Regions from separate parts of the Homo sapiens genome. Here region 2 is linked to region 1. A link means that fine-mapping ties the variant in region 1 to the expression of a gene that starts in the linked region. Tissue or cell type: thyroid. Region 1 holds a variant in brackets; the other region holds the start of a gene. All regions are shown on one strand. Distances are between the middles of the regions.

The links.
Region 2: TMEM132B starts here. The variant in region 1 is fine-mapped to the expression of TMEM132B in thyroid (GTEx, PIP above 0.99).

What each region holds. Positions count from the first base shown.
Region 1 is chr12:125,215,631-125,218,532 of GRCh38, forward strand. The region is part of intron 1 of TMEM132B (transmembrane protein 132B); the gene reads left to right. Among named protein-coding and RNA genes, the nearest start is that of TMEM132B, 31 kb to the left of the region's middle. The variant G/A (reference allele first, on the strand shown) is at 1,721.
Region 2 is chr12:125,184,697-125,187,598 of GRCh38, forward strand. TMEM132B (transmembrane protein 132B) reads left to right here and starts at 1,690. Exons shown (of 9, transcript NM_001366854.1): 1 at 1,690-2,170. The coding sequence starts at 2,104. RefSeq lists an enhancer at 891-1,424 and a silencer at 1,473-1,682.

The DNA.
Region 1 (2,902 bases):
TCCCAGGCTCAAGTGATTCTCCTGCCGCAGCCTCCCGAGTAGCTGGGATTACAGGCATGCGCCACCACGCCTAGAGGATTTTTGTATTTTTAGTAGAGATGGGGTTTCACCATGTTGCCCAGGCTGGTCTTGAACTCCAGACCTCAGGTGATCCACCCGCCTTGGCCTCCCAAAGTGCTGGTATTACAGGCGTGAGCCACTGCACTGGCCCTCTTTCTTATAAAGACCCTTACACTGGGTCCACCTGGATAACAGAAGGTAATCTCCCCAGCTCAAGAGCCTTAACTTGATCACAGTCTCTATTGCCAGGAGGGCAGTGTTCTAGGGATTAGGACATGCACATCTTTGGGCACCATTATTCTGCTTACCACAGCCATCTTTATCTGCCCCTTCTTAAGAATCTCTCTGCTCTTTGGCCTCTGAACTTGGGCATCCCTGGAGGCCTTGATTCCATCTGCCTCCTGTATTAGTTTGGGCTGCCATAAGAAAATACCACACAGAGTGGTTTAAACAACAGAAATTTCTTTTCTTACAGTTCTGGAGGCTGGAAGTTCAAGGTCAGGGTGCTAGCAAGGTCAGTTTTTGGTGAGGGCTCCCTTCCTGGCTTGCAGATGGCAGCCTCCTCTCTGTGTCCTAAAGGTAGAGGGTGGGTGGGGAGGCTTGAAGCAGGGGAGAAGCTCTCTCATGTCTCCTCTTAAAAGAACACCAGTCCTGTTGGATCAGGGTCCCACCCTTATGACCTCATGTGACCTTAATTACCTCCATTAAGGCCTGACCTTCAAATATAGTCACCTTGGGCATTGGGGCTTTCACATGTGGCTTGGGGAGGTGAACACAAAACTTCATTTTGTAACACCTCTCTTCCTCTAAGCTTTATTCTCCAGCCCTCAGCCTTGGAGGCCTTCTTTGTGTCTTTGTTGAGAAAATCAGTGCTGAGATGTCTTTTCAGCCTGGCATTGCCCTTGGAATTACTCCGTTATCGTGGCCTGATTCTCTCTGCTCTGTGAGTGTGGGCAAATTGACAGGATGTTAAAGGATGTTCAAGAAAAGGTCACTGATAACAGGCCTTTGATTAGTTCCTGAGAAAAGGAGTCAGTGATTCCTTTTCTGAGCTGGAATGGTTGGGGAGTGCAGCCGTGGGGACTTGGAGATCCTTCTTCCTGCCAGAGACTCCACAGATGTCTGGACCCAGGGGCTCGGGTGGGTCCACGGAGGCAGCAAGCTGGCCGGAGGCATCGAGCAGCTCCTCCATTATCCGCATGCCTCCTGCGTGGCTGGGCAGGATGCTGTGGCCACTGGCTGCGATCTTGGCGCTTCACAAGCTGGAGCCGTCAGGCCCTGAGCCACTCGGCCGCGCAGATGCCTTCCCTGTATGCACTGGCTTGTAATTAAAACTCAACTTGCCAGTCTGATTGGACTAAGCAGTTAAATTCATCTGGAAGAGTTTTTCATCTGCATTGTGTAATTAGCAACATACGATGCTTGTGTTAGCTCAATTAAAAGTTATGGTGATTAATATGGGTATCAAAGCAGAACCGTAAATCAACAGATTCAGGGCACTTGGAGTTCATGGGCTGGGAGGCAGAGAGCCAGCTGCAGGCCATACCTCAGTGGCAGCTAGGCAGGAGGGTGGGGAAGAGAGGCCAGGCTGGGGGCCGGGTACATGGCTGGGTCACTCACTCTCCTCTCTGAGCCTCAGTTTCCCATCTTATATATTGGG[G/A]TACCAGTACTTTTAGGTCATTCTGAGTTTCAGGGCCTGGGATGGGGTATAGATGTAGAAAGTGTTCTCTTTTGCCTATATACTCCTTCGCTTAATTCTTTGTTTGTTTGTTTTGAGACAGGGTCTTGCTCTGCTGCCCAGGCTGGAGTGCAGTGGCACAATCTCAGTTCATTGCAGCCTTGACCTTCCAGGCTTAGGCGATCCTCCCGCCTCAGCCTCCCGAGTAGCTGGGACTACAGGCAGGCACCACCATGCTTGGCTAATTAAAACAATGTTTTTTTATGTAGAGATGGGGGTCTCACCATGTTGCCCAGGCCGGTCTCAAACTCCTGGCCTCAAGTGATCTTCCCTCCTTGGCCTCCCAAAGTGCTGGAATTACAGGTGTGAGCTACCACGCCTGGCCTTCCTTCCTTTAATTCTAAATGCACTGACAGGCATTATGTATCAAAATTAAAACGTCCATGCCTTGAACCCAGCAATTGCGCACTGAGATGTTTATCACACAGATAAATTTCCACGTGTGCAAAATGTCTTAATAATGACTGCAGCAGTTGTTCGTAAGAGGAGAGATTTGAGGATAGCCTAAACTGATTAAGCAAATTATGACATATCCATGCAGGGAAATATTTTGCAGCTGTTAAAAAATGAGGCGGGCCAATTTTAAGGGAGATGGAACTGTAAGATGTGCTTTTAATGCATAAAGCAAGATGTAGGGAGTTAGTACTGCCAAGTGTGGACAAGAGAACAATACACATGTATATGTTTGCAAATAGGTGGAGCAACACCCTAAGGAGTCCTATAAGACTGGGGGAGTTGGGTACCTTCTGGGAGGGTAATGGATTGCCTGGGGGACAAGGGATGGGAGGTGATAATGTTGTATGGTGTGCTTTTGTATTCTTCGAATTTCATGCCATGTGCATTTTTTAACTTAAATTATATAATAAAAATATTTTAAAAGAAAAAAAGGCAAGCTCTCAATCGTCCTTTCCCCTTAAAATGAGAAAAAAGGGCCTATTTTAGTATTTTCCATAGATTTTTGTCTCTTTGTCCTTGTGACCGAGAGCTTCCAGAGCTATTTTTCTTTGCTGTGAAATTGTAATGTTTTGTATCTGGCTTCTAGATTTCCAGTGCAGAAATGAAATCTAAAAATCTCAAACGCCCACGACATGGCATTCTGGGGTA
Region 2 (2,902 bases), 31 kb before region 1:
AAAATCCCTTTACGTCTCCTAATTAACCTGGGCTGGAGACTCACCACCTGCCCCTGGCTTTCTTCCTTCTTTTATCTAGGAAGAACTGAGTGCTGCCTCTGCTAATGAGCTTGTCTGTACTAATCAAGCAGGTGCCCTGTCCCCCATCCCCTCTTGGCAGCCGGGAGTGGGGAGGATTGTCCTTCTGATGTGAGCTCTGGGCCCGCAGAGGAAAATCAGATCTATCATAATAATGGCCATGATGATGAGAATGATAATGTTGACACTGACTCCTTTAAATGAGTTCCGACTTCCTAGGTCAGGGGCTTTGTATGTGTTATTGGGGACACCAGGTGATGTGCAATGCCTTCCATCTCTCAGATGAGAAAACTGAGGCTCAGGGAGGAATAAGGGACTCGCCCCAGCTTGCACAGCTAAGGAGCGGCAGAGCTGGGATTCTCAGCCAAGACTCCATGACTCCAGAGCCTTCCCCAAATCTGTCTTTTCATCACCCCACGCTGCCTTATTGACCATTTTCAAAGAGTTTGACCCACTTTTTCATGGAAAACTGAGATGGCAGAGCAAGTGGCTGGTGTGGTGGGGGCTGGGGCGGAGCCAGGACTCCAAGCCACCCTCCCAGGTGGGCAACCCCCCATATCCCCTGTCCTCCCAGCGTGGTGGGGAAGCTTGAAGGCATCTGAGCGCTGCTGGAGGCTCCCCCACATGCTCCCAGCATGACTCATTCATTCGGCTTAGCCCCCCGTGGCTTTGCCCTGGTTGGGGGTGGGGCGCCCAGGAGGATCAGTGGTTTCTGGGATAATAGGTACTGGGGCTCCGTGTGACCTGTGACCTCCCTCCGCACTCTGGCTGCGTCCCTGCCCCTGGATGGAAGAATTCGACCACCTAGTACCCGGCCCTGCGCAACACCTCCGCTCCGTCACTGCCTGACCCTGCGCTGGGAACTCATTCCCGGGACCGCCAGGGAATCTGCCCTTCCCAGGAGAACTCCTGGCTGCCTCCGCGTGCTCCTAGGGCCTGCGCGAAATGGGAAGGCGCATCCTCTAGCCTGGGTAAATAAGGGACCCTGCCTCACCCGGGTGGCCATCCCCAGGCCGCCTTCGCTGTGTTTCAGGTCACCGCACCCAGCCTGCGCACCCCTAGCCCCCATCCCGGTGCCGTGCAGAGGCTCTGCACACAGCCTCGGCCTCCCGGAGGCCCTCCCCTCTCTCCTCTCCCCTCTCCCACAGGCACTCCCTAGCTGTGCCACATTTAACCCGGGACCTCCTGTCCGCGCTCAGTCTTGCAGTCTCTGGCCCCGGCAGACACCACCTCTCCAGAGGTCGCTGCCCCATCCCGGTGACCCTCCGCTGGCCTCCTCACCCCTCGACCTTGGCAACTCCTACCGCTGCGCCCCAAGACGCCGGATCTAGCTGGGCATCCCCTCTCTGCATTGCGCACCCCTCCCGCAGCCCCTGTACCCGCGAGCGCCCGCGACCCCCGGCGGGCTCCCGGAGCCTCCCGGCCGGGCGCCCTCCCCCGAACCGCCGAGCAGTGGCGCGTCCCGCCGCCTACTGGCCGGGCTGCCGCCTGTGCCCCGGCTCCCGGGCGGCCCCTCCCCCGGCCGCGGCCCCGCCCTCCGCTCCTCTCCTCCTCCTCCTCCTCCTACTCCTCCTCCTCCTCCTCCTCCCCCCGGCGCTCGCTCGCTCGCTCACTCTCTCGCTGGCTCGAGGGGCGGCCGGCAGATGGCGATGGCAGAGGCGGCGGCGGCGGCGGCGGCGCGACCGGGATGGGACGGGCGCTGGGGCGCAGGAGCCGCGGCGGCGGCGGCGGCGGGGGCCGCGCAACTCGGGCCAACTGCGGGGCAGCCGGCCAGGGCGCGGGGCGCTGAGCCTCGGCCGCCCCAGCTCCCCAGCCACGCACGGCCGAGCCCAGGAGAGCGCGCAGAGGCGCAGCCGAGGAAGCGCCGCCAGCGCCGGCGCATGCGTCTGGGGAGGAGCGGCGCGCTGGGAGCGAGCCATGCCCGGCGCCCGGGCGTAGCCGCCGGGGGCTGCTCCGGGAGCCGCGGGCCGGGCCGGGCGCGCGAGAGGAGCAGCCCCGCGCCGCACCCACCGCGCGCCGAGGACCATGCCGCCCCCGGGCCGGGCGCCGCCGCTCGGGCTCCTGCTGGCGCTGACTGCGCTCCAGTGCCCAGGTAACGCGTCCCCGGACCCCATCCCCGACCCCGGCCGAGGCGCACAAAGTTGGGTGAACGGGCGGCTACCTCCTTCTCAAGTCCCTGGCAGCGCGCATCTCCCGGACTTGGACAGACCTGGGGAGACCCTGGGAACCCAGGAGCCCCCGGCGCGTTCCCCTTTGCCTAGCGCCTGGGGAGAGCCCGCCTGCCTTCTCCCCCAAACCCTTAGCTTCCTTGCGGATCCTTTCGGGACGCACGGGGGCCACAGACCGGGGCACTCAGCCTCTCGAGGCGGGTGGGGACGCGACTGCAGGAATCGAGCCCCCTCCCCGCCCTGCCTTGGGCCAAATCCCCCCCAGGTCCCAGTTCCTCCAGGGGTTTTGCTGGGCGGGGGCGTCGACGCAGCCCTTCTCCAGTGTCTTGCTGCCCGCGGTCGCACAGTGGTGCGTTCCCGGGACACCTGCGGGCCCCGGAGATGTCTCGGCCGGCGCTGTCTGGCTTGTCCGCAGCCCCTCCCCACGCCCCGCGGCCCTCCCCTGCTTTCACACTGCCCTCCCCAAGCTACCCACCCTCGCCAAATGGCCTCCTCTTGGCCAAAGAGCAGCCCGCTGCGCGCCTCCTGCAAACGCGGTCTACTCCAGCGCCCTGACCCCAAGGCGGGCGGGAGAGGGTAGCCGCGGCCAAGCAGTCCAGGACGCGCCGGGGAGCCTGGAACGCGGTGCTGTCCAGAGCCATTGCCTGGGCACCGGG